Linked DNA regions of Homo sapiens: region 2 is linked to region 1. The links come from fine-mapping of genetic effects on gene expression. Tissue or cell type: whole blood. Region 1 holds a variant in brackets; the other region holds the start of a gene. All regions are shown on one strand. Distances are from middle to middle.

Region 1 (8,105 bases):
ATGCTATATGTGATCACTGCTGTAATGGAGTAGGTACCAAGAGAGCAGGATCGTGGAGGAAGGAATGATGGCTGCCCGGTTGGCCTGGGAAGTCAAGGACAGTTTCAGAGAGATACAAAGTGACTTTTGTAGCTGGTGCTGGCAGGAGGAGGAGGGTGGGGATGGTGTGCGGTGCATGCATAGGTGGGATGATAGGTCATCCGGTGGTGGAGCTGAGGGTGCGTTGGAGGTTTAGGATGAAGGATGGGGAATGCAGTAGAGGAGATGGGGTGGAAGAGCCAGGCAGGGGCTGCAACGGACACGCAGGTGGACCTGTCTAGCTCACATCCCTTTCTTTGGCAGCCTCTCCTTCTCAACCCACGTCCCTGATGAGACACTGGGGACAAGGTGGCTGTGACCCTGTCCACAGCTGAGCAGACCAGAGGGATGGACACATCTGACCCAAACAAATCCAGATTCTCTGTCTCGAGAATCTGATCAAAGGCAGAGATGTCTGAGGTAGGTGTTGTGGGCACTTAGAACTGAACAGTCTTGGGGAGGTGGGAGAGTGCTGAGGCCGCCCAGAATCTGCCACATCTACGTTTTGGAGAAGTGGATGACCCAGGCTACAGAGAAGGCAGGGGATATGACCATCAGAGGTGTGAGGCCTGCCCGGCCCCTTTTTGGCTGTCTGCTTACACGTGGGTTCTAGAACGGTCCCCAGGAGCAGACCATAGGGTCTTGCATACCATGAACAAGAGCTTAGAGGTAGGTAGTTGGGGAATTATAAGCAGTAGAGTAATGAGATTTAATTTTAGAATGGTTTCTCTGGCAGCTGCATCAGATAACCTGAGGAAGGATAAGGCTGGTGGCAGGTGGACCAGTTAAGAGGCCCCTATAACAGTCTGTGCCAGAACTGACAAGGATTTTTTCCAGTGAGCAGAGAGAGGCATGGATTAGCCATCACAGGCGGTAGGAATAACTGCGTTCAGTGACCACTAAATGTGGGTGAGACAGGGCTGTGGGGTGCCTCCCTGGCTTTGCTGATGTCCCAGTCCAAGCCCCAATATTACAGAACTGGTCCACCAGATGCAGCATCTCTATTTGCTTGGCAGAACTTGGGTGTGAGAAGGGAGTGGCAGTGTGTTCCAGGGAAAGCTGGAGGACCCAAGTGACAGGCGTGCTGAGGCCACCACAGGGGGTTGGTTCCTGGCTTCCTTGTGGGTGGAGCCAGGCTGGCAACTCTTGCCAGTGGGGCCTTGGAGGAGAAGCACTTCCTCAGTTGAAACTTTTGAGATAACTGTAGGTTCACATGCTGTTGTAAGTAATAGTCCAAACAGACCCAGTGCACTTGTATATAAGTTCTGTATGATTTTAGGGGAGATTTTAAAGAAAGGAAGCAATGGTCCCTGAGTGTGTCAGTGGTGTCAGATCACCAATCCTAGAGGCCAACAGATGTGAGCCTCTCTTTCTCCATTCCTGAGTTGCAAGCATTGGAACCTCTTTCACTGTGCTTTCCTCTCCCTGCCCGTTCCTCTTCCCATAAAAGGACTTGACTCATTAGCATACTGTCTCCAGCAAGGCCATCTTTCCTGGCACCTGGAAGGGGTTGGCCAGCAGAGAAGCTCTGTCATATTGGGAGGGCACACTGCCACTGTGCCCAACTAGGCCACCCTGAACTTAATTTGCATTCTCTGCTCAGGAAACTGCTTACGAGGCTTCCCACCAGAGGAGATCATTGGGAAAAAACACAGCACTAAAAAAGCTTAGGAGATTAACAAGATGAAAACATTAGCAAAAAACCCATCGGTTCAGAGAGGTTTTCTGTAAAAACAGAACAGACTGAAAAAAACGAAGTCTTTTCAATGAAAACCTTCCTTTAATAAAGAGCATTTGGTATTCTTGCTGCTAATGATGATAATGTTGGTACTTAGCAGTTTGATATGAGCCTCCAAAATGCCAATTGTCTGAGATGTATCAAGCCCTGGGGGAAAAGGTCAGTTCTCCTTTTTCTTTGGTCAAAAGCAGTGAAAGACTGAGTCAGTCCCCCACCCAGCTGGCCACTGTCGAGCAGGGGAGCACAGGGGCTTCCCTCCCCATGTCAGAGCTCTGGCAGGTGCCAGCTCAGGGGACTCACTCACCAGCTGCTATCCTAACTCTGGCCCCAGGGAGACTGTCATTACTACTTTTAATTGAAATATTTGCATATCATAAATTGCACCCTTTGAAAGTATACAATTCAGTGGTTTTTAGTATATTTGCAAAGCTGTGCAACCCTCACCACTATCTAATTCCAGAATATTTGCATCCTCCTCCCTTCAGCCACTGGCAACCACTCATCTACTTTCTGTCCCAGTAGATTAGTCTATCCTGGACATTTCACATAAATGGAATCATACGCTCTGTGGTCCTTTATGCCTGGCTTGTTTCACTCAGCATAATGTTAAGATTCATCCACTGCATCGCATAGGTTGGTACTTCTTTGCTTTTTAAAGGCTGAATGCTCTTTCACTGTTTGGATACACCACATTTTTTTGAGCCATGTTCATCCTTTGGTGGACATTTGAGTTGTCTCCCATTTCTCATTAGGGGGCTGCTGACCCAGTCTCCTCTATGAGGTAAAGATGAGCTGGCAGCACCTCCTGCCAGAGGTACCAGGGATGGCCCAGTGATGTTCCTGAGATCTGAATGGCCAAGGCAGAGAGCAGTGGCTCGCAAATGAGGCTCTTTATAGAGCTCTGGGGGAAGTCACAGAAGGGGCTGTGTCTTCCCACCATCTGTTTGGTGAAGCTCTGTGATGCCCTTGGAAGGCTTTCAGCTCCCCCTGATGCTAAGGTCAGGTGGGTGTGGTCCCGGGCCCACCACTCTGCTCCATGCAGAGCACTGATCTATTTCATATTTGGTTTCAGGATAAGATTGTGTTTGCAGAGACTAAAAATCTAACAACCTTAGGTCTGGAGGACAAGGCTCTCTGAAGCAGCAGAGGATGGCAGTCTTTTCCCCACCACTGCCAGGTGGCGCACGTCTTGGCTCTAGGTGTGCAGACAGCCCTTCTCTGGGTGGGTAAGTGTGTCTAGACTGGATAGGGCTATCGCTTCTCGGCCTTTTGGCTAAGAGCAAGTGTAGACTGGATAGGGCTATTGGAAAGGCTCACAGGAGGCCTCTCTGTGTCTCTGTGGCACAGAGCCTCCCAGGAAGCTGGCAGGAAATGGCAGACATCTCTTCTCTCCTCTGCCTGCCAAGCATCATAAATATCCAGGCCCAGAGAAAGGTGCCCGCTTAGTACCAGGAGGGAGCTGAAGGCCTCCCAGGGCTGCTGTGACCAAGCATGGCTTCCAGCCAAACACACGGGGGAGCACAGATGCTTCTGTGAGCTGCTTGTGGGGCCACAGCCCTGCACAGCACAGCCCCCATTCTGGGCTTGGGCAGTGGACGTGCAGGCGCCTCTAACTCAACCTGTCCCTGTCACACAGGAAAGGACACCTCAGCCTGCTTTGGGCTCCAGGTGTCAAGAAAGTTGTTTGCAACTGGGAGATACACAAACAAGCTGGGTTTTCTGTTTTTCAAAAATTATATTTCTAAGGCAAGCTGGGCTATGCTTGGACCAGGCTGGGGGATCTAGTGCAGAGAAGGGAAGCATCCAGTGTTGTGCGGGATATTCCTACTAAAAGCCATGTCTCATGTCCCTGACTCCTCCAGGCCTGGCACTTGGCTGGGACAACTGCTGTGGTGTGATTCCCATGTGCACTGGGAGGTGGAGCTTCTGGGGACAGAGGGACAGCTTTGATTGCCAGGTCCCTGACTCACCTCCCAGAAAAGGAGGAGAAACAGGGCACTGGCCACTTGGCATGGTGCCGCTGGAAAATGGTCCAACAGTACCCTAAGGCCACTCTTTCTCCCTGTCCCCTGCCTACCCCTCCTTGTCCTCCCCCAATTCTCCTGAGCTCCTGCCACGGTATAGACAGCAGATGGCCAGTTCTCCCAGGCACACGGTAACAGGGACATGGGGACATGCAGGAAGAACACACTCACCTCCCAGGGCGTGTTCGGTCATACTGAGGCACAACGACTCCAGCCTGTTGTTGATGTCAGGTTCGGTCACGGGAAGCTGGAATTCTGCAGGCGATAAAGGGTTATGTTGGTGACAAGGAGGAGATAAGCAGGGTGCCACCTGGTTCCACCTTCAGGAGAAAGGTCTGGTGTACCTCCCTGGGAGGACTTGGGGACTGTCAGCGCTGGCATGGAAGGGGCTCCACTCAGGCTCAACCAACCTCTAAGGTCTGTTAAACACAGTCCACTGTGAACTTGGGAACCTGGAACAAAACGGAGACTAAAAATAGCTGGTCATGTCACAGTCTGTGCCTCCTCTGCTCAGAACCCTCCAGCGGCCTCCCATCAAAGTAACAGCCAACCTCCTGCCCTGGCCCA[T/C]AAGGCCCCGCATGATCCAGGCCCTTGTTATCTCTGTACCCTCATACAGCTCTCTCCTTCCTCTGCTCTGCCCCAGGCCCCCTCCTACCTCACGGCCTTTGCACCGCTGTTCCCTGGGGTGGTTTCCATGGCTCTCCCTGCCTTCACATTTCTGGCTCTATCATCTCCTTGGAAAGGACTTTGTTCCTTGTATGAGCCATGCCCCCACACTATCCCTTTCCCCTGCTTTATTTTTCTTCATAGCCTTCGCCCACAGCTGTCATATTTGATATTTGTATTCACTTTCTACTGTCCCCCTCCCCTGACCCCGCTGAGTGCTCACCTCATTGGAGCAGAACATGGCTCTGCCCCCTGTGCCTAGAGCAGGGCCTGGCATGCATCTAGAGTGGGAGAGGAAAGCCAGGGCCCAGCACGCACCTCTTAGTGTGAGACCACGTGGGGGGCTTTAGGTGTGCGGGCTCCTTAATCTGCCCAACAAGCCCAAGTGGGGTTCAGAGAGGTGAAGTCACTCATCAAAGTTAGCCAACTAACACAAAGCTGGGACAAGACCCTCTCTGACTCCAGAGCCGGGGCTCAGCCACCTGCCACAGCAACTGCAGGTAACTGTCAACACACTCAGCCTCGAGGGCCTCTAGAATCAAGGGCTGAGACACCCACTCTGCAGGCAGTAGGGGCTCGGCTCCCACTGACCGACAGTGCTGTGCACATTCTCACCACAATCTCCCCTCTACCACCTGGAACCCCTCTATCTCCCCAGGTTCCAATGTCGCCTCTTGTGAGCAGGAGGCAGTGTCTGGGAGCCACCTCCTCTCACCTGCTGGAGCCCTCACTGTCAGCACCTCCGCAGGCCTCATCCAGTGGCGACTTTAAATGTCCTCAACTACCTGGAAGTGCCTTGTAGACAGTGATGATGCTTCCCTATCTCTCTGAATCTCCCACAGCGCCCAGCCCTGGCCTTCTGCCTCATACATGTCTACTGAGCGAAGAAAAAGAGAAAGTAGAAGAAGTAGAAGGAAACTCTGACAGCTAAGAGTTGTGAAATCCTTTTTGTTTTTTTTTTTTTTTTTAAAGTTTTGTGACACTGGTTTGAAAAGAATTGCAAAATCCTAAGGGGAGAGGCAGAAAAAAAGTCCCAGAGGGGGTGTCCACAGCGGGGTGTGTTCCAGGTGACCGAGAAGTCTCCGTGTTGCCACCACCTTCCTCTGTGAGCCTGGGAACCTGTTCCATGCTGAGGGCCTTAGCTCCTCTACCTGTCAAGTGGGCAAAGCATCCCGGGGTCCCCCTGCAGGCCACTTGCCTGCTCCTTCATGTCTCCACCAAGGGAGCACATGGGGCCAGAGAGAGAAGAAAGAGAAGTGAAACGAAGTTGGTGGCTTGGTGGGATAGGAAGCTGAAACCAATGGTTAAGTCAAAGTTTTGTTTTCCTTGATTTGCTATACATTAAGATAATCTCTGCAATGTGTGTTTCCCATTGTCAGCTAATTCAGAGGCAGATGTTGCTTCCGTTATTTAAAAATCTCAGAAGCCTGGCAAAAAGGAACGCTATGGAAAGCACCAGAGAGCTGACTGTGTTCTTCCTGACCCATGTTCCGGCATCGATGGGTTTGGAAGACAACCGTGCCAATACGTGAGCAGACGGAGGCCGACTGAGCTTCCAGGGAAGTGGGGTGCCACAGAGAATGGCAGGAGTCTCCACCGCCCCCACCCACTAGTTGCTGTTAGAGTAGGGTCGGGGCAATTAGACAATTCCAGGGGGAAGAGATTTTAGTATTTTCATCCATTCATGTGAAAATCATATGCATGCAAAAATTAGCAGTCTTCAGGGTGTGAAATCTATAAAATAGAAACACAATTTTATATATAGCGAGTTAGCAAATATGAAAAAAAAAAACAAACCTCAGCAATTATAGCCATCCATATGCTCATTGTAAGATTTAGTTTACTCTCCAGCGCTCCCCTTTAAACAAACACTGTGGAGAGATTTGGATAAATAAAGATGCTCGACATTTGGAGAGAAGTGTTTCAGCTGCAGGATTTCTTGCCAACACGCAGCAAAATGCCATTTTCCAAGCCTGGGATTGCGTGTTCCAAAAAGGGGGCTGAGAAACGCAGGGCTCTCCGCTCCAGAATCCCCAAACCTTCGTGGCTGCTCTTTTAGGTGGGAAGTGGGGGTGTTCGCTTCTTCTCCCCAGCTCTTTGCTTCCATGCACTGGGGAGCCGTGACCCCCAACACTCCGAGTGGCTCTGAAAAATTCTAAGTCTTGGGAGAAGCCCATATGTTCACACTGCAGAGTTTCCTAATAGTGTGACTTTTTAATTGTGTATTTGATAAAAACAGATCCATGCCATCTCGCCGCACGTATAAGACAGAAAGACCAGTTGGGTGGAAAACAGCTTCCATCTCAGGCTAGGAACCCTCAGCTGTATGGGGCTAGGTGCCCCAGAGGGGCATTCGGGCAGCTCTTGCCCCACAGACCAACATAAACCACCAGGCCAACCCTTGCTGTGGCTCCTGTTAACCCTGAGGGCCCATCTCATTTATCCCAGGCCCCTGCCCCTCGTGGCCACAGACCAGGCAGATGGAGATGTGAGTCTTCAGGAAGGCAAAAGGAAAGACCCCTCTTTAACTGAGCCTCCTCTGCTCTTTCCCAAAGGAGGCATGTTTCTTCAGCTCAGATGGCATCTCTGAGGACCAGTATTCCAGTATTCAGTAAGGATCGCTAGTTTTGGAATCCCCAAGGTCTAGGCTGACTTGAGACATTAATTGTATCTTTTCAGAAGTCCCACACGTATGGAGTAGTCCTGTGCTCAGGCCCAGGGTCAAGAAGATTCCGGAAGAGAATGCTACCCATCCCTAATGAGGTGCTGCTGCAGCATCCACCTGAGGAGCCCAAAGGGCTTGTCCTTGGCAGTAACCGTCCATCCCTGCTGGGTCTCACATGTGTGGCACCCACGGTGCAATTCTGCAGTGCTTTTTCTCCAAGGCACTGAGGGTAAGGAGCCAATTTCTTTAGGACTTTAGAATAAGAAACAGGCTGGGGCATTCCAGGAAAAATCTATAGAATCCCGTTTTGCCAATGACAGCGGAGGCAACTCTGTTGGATAACTAGAAAGGTGTGGAGTCTGGTTCACTGAGCAGCAGGGTTGCTAGGAGGAGAGAAAGCAGGGAAGACAAAAAGGGACAGAGCAGTGGGACCTGGTCTGCTGTGATGAGATGAGTAAAGAAGAAAGGAAGACAAGAGAACTAAGAAGAAAGGGGGAGGATGGTAACAAAAGGGAAAGAAACGGCACAGGCAGGGAAACAGAGGGGTGGGGCAGCAGGCAAGCTGAGGATGGCAGAGATGGCCATGGAGGGTGGCAGGAGTAATGAATAGCATCCCTGAGTTGACCATGGGAACGCACCTTTTCTCTGGTGGCCTCCTAACATTCCTAAGCCTGCAGAAGGTCAGTGCCTGTGGAGGTCCTCTGGGACCAACGCTTTCACAAAAAGTGATGGGTACAACATGGTATAAGATGATATTGTACCATCTTGCCCCAAGTTGATGCTCAGAGGCAGGAGGCTGTGGGCCCAGCTGGGTTCTTGGCTATGACAGAATTGATTTATTTATCAATCTCCCTACCCATTGTCTGCCAGTCCTGAACAGGGATGTCTGCCTTGATTTATTAGAAGACATGGAGGAAATATTTATCCAGTACTG
Region 2 (8,105 bases), 220 kb after region 1:
CCTTTTCTCTTGTATTTAACTATAAGTATAGGAATTTATTGTCATTTACTTACCACAAACATACACAAATAGTGTATATTTTGTGGGTTACGTTTTTGTGGATTAACTTATAAATCTCTATGAAAAATATATTTCAAGTCCAAGTGACAAAAGCCATAAATAAACAATGCCACAAAGTCTATTTTTCTTTTGGAAACTTCAGGTAAAGTCAGTGGGTTGCATTTTTGCTACTTGTAGGTATCAAATGACCTGCTAGTCCTGGAACTGAGACTGGCCAGAAGTCTCAATGTTCAACTGGAGCAGTAGCTGAAGAGACTTATCTAAGGTTATAAGGATCCTGGGAACAAGACTGTACTAGAGAACTGATCATGACCATATCTGTTAAAAGAAAAACACATACAAATAAATCCATAGGGACTGATTCAATCATTTCTTGGAATCTCCAATGACCATGAGCCTGAGGCAAAGGATGAACCAGTGAATCACTAGATTCTCAATAAATTTAAGAGAATGAAAGCACCAAATTACATCCCACAAATCTCAAATAAATCATGTTTAATGCGCAGGATATCTCACTATTTAAAATCAGTCCTGCATAAAACGAGAGATATATTCATACTATTACTAGTAATTTTTTTTTATTATACTGAGATCGAGTCCCATATATGAATTTGGTTCCCATTTACCAAGTTTTAAAATCTCTAAACACTAGACAAAATGTGAGGGTTTTTTAAATTGATGATTACAAAATAAAGTGATACAAGATGACTTCGGTACAGGAAATCTCAGCAATCCAATGAATGAGTCATTCTGCACAGCCTAGTTTTCTGAATTGGTAAGAGCCTTACACATCAAAACAGCTCAGAGGTTAATTATTCTGGGTGTAAACATTTCCAAAGTATATTGAACATTTCCTTCTCTTCTTAAAGAGTGTATCTAAAAATGTATTATTTCCATAGTTCACCGTTAACAACAGTAAATAGCAATTATTTGTTTATGTTATTATAGAGTGGTGCCTACAAGGTCAATTGAGGGTTCCCACCCTAATATTCCCAAGCCTTCAAAGTTTCTGCCCCAATTCTTGTCTAAAGTTACAGTTTTTCTGTCTCTTTCCAAGTTGTCAGGCTGTCAGGGGTCACTTTTTACTACTGATTACAGCAGTCCCTCACCCCATTCTAAATGTGTTACCCCCAATACACTACGGATTATTTGTCAAATTTTTTAAATGTTAGGATTGTGTCTAGAATAAGAGCAAGTACATTCTGAGAGAGGGCCTGAAATATTCTCTTGGACTTTCATGCTATCTACTCTGGTTGCGAAGTGGACTTTTTGCCCCCTTCCTGGTTCTTGGCTAGTTTCCGGATATGCAGAGAGCCACACTACAGACTCAGGTATGCTATGACAACTCCTGATGCTCTTTATGATCCCCACACTCCGAAAGTAAACCAAATCATCACATGACCTCCTAAGAAATTTCTGTCCTGGCCACACAACAAAACAACTGCAAAGATTTCCATGCAGGCAAAACGTCTAGGCGAAGGATTAATCCAGAAACTGGAGACCAGTTCCTATCTTACACAATGGTTCTATATTTTGTATATCTACATCATTTAGCAGCATGAACAGGTGGGTATCTTATACAAATAAGTATGGCCAAACATGTCTTAAGGGAAAAAAAATGCCAAGTGACTTCAAAAAATTCACAGTTCAATTTTTTAAATTATGAGATTTTTAAAATTAGGCCACCTTATTTTAACATTTAACTGTTTTACTTACTAACCTGGTGGCTGCTCTATTGGGAAAAGTCATCTCCATTACTCAAAGGGAAAAAGTGCTGCTCCAACATTTGAATAACCTAAAGATGAGTTTGAACAGTCCCTACCAGCACTGAAATCAAGCATTCAACCTAAATGACTCTGCGTAAATCCTCTGCAATCTATAAAATGCAAAAGTTTATATAACCTTGTTTGTCAAACCTGAGAAAGTAAAACCGAGCAGGTAAACCAGGCTTCCCGCTGAAATTAAGGAAGGAAGCAAAGAGGGTGGATCATCAGTTACCCAATTATGCTTCCACACCCCAGTGAAGGAGGCTGGCCCTCCAGCTATTTATAAACGTGGAGCTCAACCAAAGGGGGCCCTGTCATCGCCACCCCAGTGAGTCCTGGTGTGAGCTGGGAGGCTCGGGCTCAATGGAATCTCCCTCAATGTGGCCCTCCATACTTGGCCATGCAGGATCTTTCGGGTGCAGTCCTGTCTGGTCAGGAAAAGAACTGTGAAGATTTCCAGCGGTCACTTCCACCCTATGATTCTATATATGGAAGCATCCCATTCTAGTGTTTTCACCATCGTGCACACCATACTAGGGAGGAGGAATGAGTAGGCCGGCTCGCTTCTTGCTGCTCTGAAGGCACACTCACTTTAGTGTCTCCCAGGCCCCACTGCCCTGGACTGGACCTTGTCATCAAATGGCAGCCCAGACCTCTGCTGAGCTTTGCAGGCTCGCAGCTCCAACATGGAACAGCTGGAAGAGGACCCTGCATTCTTTTCTCTGCATAAACACTGGGGACTCTGTTCACCCTCCTGCAGCAGCATGAACTAAAGAATTTCCCCCTATCCAAAATCACAACCATCAGACTTTCCCCCCATCCCCCAGCCTCCTCCTACCCTCCAGGATATAATTTCAGTCTGTCACCACCCACGCTAGCAAATAGGAAACTGCTGGACCTTTCGACTATATTCACTTTCCATACTAGTTGAGGTGTCTGTAAATACTAGCAGGGTAATATGAAACGATTCTGTTCTATTCAGTAAAGTTTCCTAACGAAAAGCATTAAGTAACCCACTTCATGCCTGTCCTTTCTCCAAGACCCTTTTTTTCTACAAGATCCGTATCAATATGGATAATGTCACGAGCAGTAAGCTTAACCGCATTATATATATATATATATATATATATATATATATATATATATATATATATATGCTGCAAATGTCATTTTACTAGTCTCTAGCGTCACCTGCATATTATTCTGAAGACGAAGCTCTAAAACCAGAATATCTGTGGGGAAAAATGAATAATAAAATTGGATTTTCATGTACTCCTCACACAGCCTTATCCAAGCTTGGCTTCTGAAGGGCAGTCCCGGGCATCTATCATGTGTTGCTGAAATCCAGCGAGCCACGTTGCCCAAAAGAAGGAGGAGGAAGGAAAAAACACACACACCCAGAAAATCCAGACTCTACGTGACCTGACTTACTTATTTCCCAGGAAACTGCATGAGAGAAAAATCAATCATTCATGCTACCGTAGCTACCACACGGAAAGGGCTGACGGAGTTCACAGTGGGCAAAATCCCAAAGCGGCCGGCGGAGGTAAGTAGGTGGGGGGCGGTAGTGGGGGGACACCCGGAGGGGGTGGATTCCGAGGGCCTCGGGGCCACGCCGTCCAGGTCCCGGCGCGGCTGGCAGGGACTGGCCTCGGCCTGGCCCGAGGCAGAGAAGCGGAGGGAGGAGCGGGGGTTGGGCAGGCGGGACGGCGGCGGCGGCCGCCGCACACTTACCGGGGCTGTTGGCCTCGCGTTCGAGGACGTGCAGCTCGGCGCAGTCGGCCAGCGAGTGCTCCAGGCAGAGCTGGAGGAAGCGGGCCTGGGTCTGGCTCACGCGCTTGAGCAGCGACAGCAGCGCAACAGTCTGCTCGCACTCGTTCCAGCCCTTAAACCAGCCCGCCAGCACCCCGACCTGGTCGCGAAACATCATGGTTAGGGGGCCGCCCTCGGTCTACAGAGCCCCCTGGGCGCCCCAGCCCGCCCCGCCCGCCCCAAAGTTTGGCGGAGCCGCAGCCCCGCGGCCGGAGACGCGTTCCTGTTCCAAGGTGGCTCTGGTGCCCGGACGCTGCAGGTACTGCCTGGGCTCCTGCCTCTCTTGTCTGGTTTCAGTTACGTTCCGGTGGTTCTGGCTGATTTCCCCAGAGACGATGACAGACAGTAGCACGGAAATGTTTCTTTAAAAAAAAAAACGACTTTTTAAAAATCCCCCACAAGGCACACAACTGAATGAAGAATGCTTTCTCCCCCCTTCTTGCAGCTTTGGGATGGTGATTTCCGGCGTCCTGGGGTCTCCTCCCCGCTGGGCGGCAACTCGGACCCTTCACGCCCGCATTCCCGAGCGGCGATCACCACTGGAAGGAGAGAAAGAGCTGCAGTGAGACCTCGGCTAGCGGAGGAGCGCGCCCTGGGGGGACGAGGGCATCAGAGGGTGCTGGGGCCAGGGGAGGGGGCGTCCCGCGGAAGGTTGGGTTCGCCGAAATCCAGCCGCCCCCTCCGCCCCCTCCGCACCCGATGTGGGAGATGGGCTATTCCCCACCGGGTAACAGCGAGAAGCCTGCTTCCCAGGTGCGGGAGGAGACCCCGCGGCTTCCTGTTGCTGCCGCTGCCAACGGCTGGTGCTCCCCTCACGGCCCGCCTGGGGTGGCCTCGGGCGCCGTGCTTAAGAACGCCAGCACCAGCAACAGATCTTCCCCGCGCAGAAAACTTGCAATGCGGCTGCGAAGGGGCGCGGGGGTGGGGGTGGGAGCTAATGCAAAGCAGAGGCGGAGGCAGCGGCAGCCCGAGTTCCTTCCTCCTCCTCTTACTCCTCCTCCTCCTCCCAGAGAAGCAGCCGAGCGGCTGCAGCTCCATCTACAGCAACAGCCAGCATCTCCACCGCCAGGCGCCCCTCTGGATTTAGGCCGTGAGCAGCCGCGGCAGCAGCTCGAGACAAAAATAAACTCTCTCCACCCAAAGCTCCGCGCCCAGCGGGCGGCGGCGCAACCCAGAGCCCCGGCTCCCCCGCGCCGCGCCGCACCAGCCCACCCGGGAGGTCTCCCTGGGCCTGCTCCGGCCGGAGCGGTCACTGTGCGCGCGCGTGTGCGTGTGTGTGTGCGCGCGTGTGTGGCAGGCATCCTGCCGCCGCCGCCTACGGGCTGGTCTGTCCGGCCCGGAGCCTCGCCCGCGCGTCGCAGGCCGAGGGCGGCACAGCGCTGGGCACACGCCCCGCGAGGGGACGGCCGGGGTCCGCAGCGCTGCTCCCTTCGGCCAGCGGGGCGGCCCCGCGGGGAATGCGGATCGGCGCCGCAGGCACACGCCCCCCAACGACAGCAAAGAAAGTTCGGCTGCGGGGGTTCCCCCAGTCCCATCCCGGTTCTCGTGGCCGCCGCCGGCGGGGAGGAGAACCCAGCGACTCAGCCTTCAAGGAGCCGCTAGCTTCCAACAACACGCTGCTTCCGGCTCCCAGAACTTCTCGGGCGGAGGGGGAAGCCCCCGGGGAGGGGACCCCCAGTGACCCGCGGGTCCCCCGCCGAGGGCCGTAGGGAGGGAGCGCTCACCTCGGCGCGGCTCATCCCGGCGGCTCGGGGGCCCTTGCGCGGGTCCGGGGCCGCGGCGGCTCTCAGCGGGGTTGGGGGCGCCCGGAGCGCCGGCCGCGGGCCATGCCGTCGGGGCGGGCGGCGCGGGGAGAGTGCGGTGCTTCGAGTCGGGGCCGCTGCAGCCGCCGCTGCTGCTGCCTCCAGTGTCGGCTCGCGGAGGACTGAGCCGCCCGAGCCGGAGCTCCCCACATGCTACTGATTAACATACACCATTACATCATGGGCTTGGCAGGGAGCGCCCGAGCGGGGGGAGAGGAACCCGGGCGGCGGCGACGGCACGCGGGGGGAGCCGGGGGGAGGAACCCCGGACCCGGCGCAGGGCGGGGGGACGGATTCCTAAGTGGGGACCAGAAAAAGGGGAGGGGAGCGGAGTGGGAGGAGCTGGTGGCGCAGAGGGGTCGGGTAGAAGGAACCTCCGAGAGGAACGAAGAAGTTCGGGGAAGAGGACGGGTCCGGGTGAATTTCTTCCTGCGGCCGCCTGCGTGTTCTGGAGGGGTCGGGACACTCAAGCCACTGGAGCCCCGGCAGAAAGGGACCCGAGGGCGCTCGGGCGGGGGCGGTGCTGCCACCCGCTGCTTGTCCTTGGGAATGTGGTTCGTCCGCTCGGCTGACCCTCGGCCCTTCTGGGGCCCCGGGGTGGCCGAGGTGTTTGGCCCCCGGGCGGTGAGACCCGAGGTCACTGCCGCACTTGCTGGGATGGGTTCCGGGGGTCGTGGAGGCGAAGGGTTCACGAGGCTGAGGGGCAGTGCGCAGGGTTGGACCTGCCCAGGCGCTAGGTTCCGTGCCGCCCTAGTCCAAGGGCCTGGCCCGGGTCGGGTGCCGGATGCCCTTTGCTCTGGCGCAGGCTCCTAGAGGCCGGCCCGGCGCCTGGCTGAGTCCCACTCTTCCCCGGGGAGGTGGCCGAACTCCTGAGACCGGTCGGGGGAGCTGTGCCTGGCGCGCGGGCTGCGGCTTCTGGCCTGGAGCGGAGGCGAGCGCCGCCCTGGGCGACAAAGAGGCGGGGCGAGGCCACCTGTCAGCGCTTAGGCGTCGCCAGGCCTCGCAACCTTCACCTGGATCTGGAGAGTGCGCAGGGCCGCGGCCACACCGGGGCTTCAGGTCCTTGCCGCGCGAGAGGCGAGGAGGGCGCAGCGCAGAGGCTGAGTGGCGCAGGGTGGGCTGCGAAAGTGCCTCTGCTAGTCTTGAAAGTAAAGGTTTGGTTAAAAATACCCTAAACCCTAAAAACCTCTGTACCTCCTGATATGGGTTGAATATTCGCAAGAAGGACTGGATGACTAAATCTGGGCTATCTCCGTGATTTCAGAGGAAACACTGCTCCCTCCAGCAACTTGAGGCTTTGTTTATACGGGAGTAATTCTGAGAAGGCAGTGAAACGCGTGTTTCAGACCCAGCCTTTCCTACTCCTGCTAATCCACTGTTTTGAAGAGAAAGTATCTGAGATATTATTCCACTAATTAACACTTTTGTTTTCCAACTCCGGCATATGTCCCTGGAATTTAAATGCTTTCTTCCCTTCCTCCTCAAATTTAGTTTCTGCAGCGTATAGTTCGTTTCAGACACGTGATAGCACCTAACCATCTGTTAGGGTTTTTGAAAGGTCTTGTCGAGGTCGAGCTGCAAAAATGTGGATTTTTTAAAAGTTAATTATTAACCAGACAGGTGAGGTATCCGCTTAATTTAATGAATATTTTGCCCTATTTAGAAAACAGGAAACCTGAAGTCAGTGTTTTATTTTTGTTTTGTTTTGTTACTGTAGAGGCAGAAAGGCTTGATAGATTTTCTCCAAGAGATTACTATGAATTAGCTAATTCTTAGTAATAACTTATATCAGGAAATAGGGAGGATTAGAGAGTATGGTCTACTTCGGTATATACCTTGCTATAAATTGTAGGCAAAGCAGATGTCGTTCTAGGGCTTTTGGAAGCTCCCAAGAGTGAATTTTTTTTAAAAGAAAGTGAAAAAACCAGAAATTTCATTAACATGTATTTTCACCTGCAGCTTACTAAAGGTATAGTAAAACTAAAAACAAAACAACAAAAAAAAAAAACAAAACTTAAGCTGGTGAATGAAAATACTGCCATCTACTGGAAAAGTGTAGTTCTTACACCAGCCTTTGACCTAGGAAAAGACATTGATTTATCTCATTTTTGAATTCTTACTGTTCAGGACACTCTAAGACATATAAAGTTGAGCATGACATGAGCTGTCAGTACTCTTGTATTTGTGTGTTAACAATTCCTTTCCTCTGGGCAAAGGAAAGGGAGTATAAATAAAACCCAGGGATGTGGCCTCACTCTTCCCCAGAGTGAAGTCATCACTCTAAAGGAAAAAAAAAATACATTCATTAAATATAAGGTATTGTATTAAGTGTGGATTTTTCCTATGTCAACCTGGACCCAGTATTATTGATAAATAAGAAGTGCCTAACACTTACTATATAGTCACATCACTTGAAAAATGAATGAAAATATCCTTTCATTAGAAGAGATATTACTATGTCTATGTTCACTGTATTCCTATTTATTCATTTGAAAAATACTTATTGTGTCACCTTGTGCCAGGCACTGGGTTAGGCAATAAGTACCCTGAGTATTCTGAGTACCAAGTACAGGCACTGAATACACGATGGGGTACTAACCAAGAGATACTTTATATGAATAAAACACAGATCAGATTATCATGAATTAACATTCCCAACATTATT

Evidence for each region. PIP is the estimated chance that this variant, and not a neighbour inherited with it, causes the effect.
Region 2: SAMD4A starts here. The variant in region 1 is fine-mapped to the expression of SAMD4A in whole blood (TOPMed, PIP above 0.99).

The regions. Positions count from the first base shown.
Region 1 is chr14:54,780,527-54,788,631 of GRCh38, reverse strand. SAMD4A (sterile alpha motif domain containing 4A) reads right to left here. Exons shown (of 13, transcript NM_015589.6): 12 at 4,012-4,095. Among named protein-coding and RNA genes, the nearest start is that of MIR4308, 94 kb to the left of the region's middle. The variant T/C (reference allele first, on the strand shown) is at 4,408.
Region 2 is chr14:54,563,568-54,571,672 of GRCh38, reverse strand. It overlaps SAMD4A (sterile alpha motif domain containing 4A), which reads right to left and starts at 4,545. Exons shown (of 13, transcript NM_015589.6): 1 at 4,335-4,545; 2 at 3,561-4,177. The coding sequence starts at 3,756. RefSeq lists silencers at 3,514-3,573, 3,814-3,873, 4,714-4,903, 5,024-5,073, 5,634-5,763 and 2 more.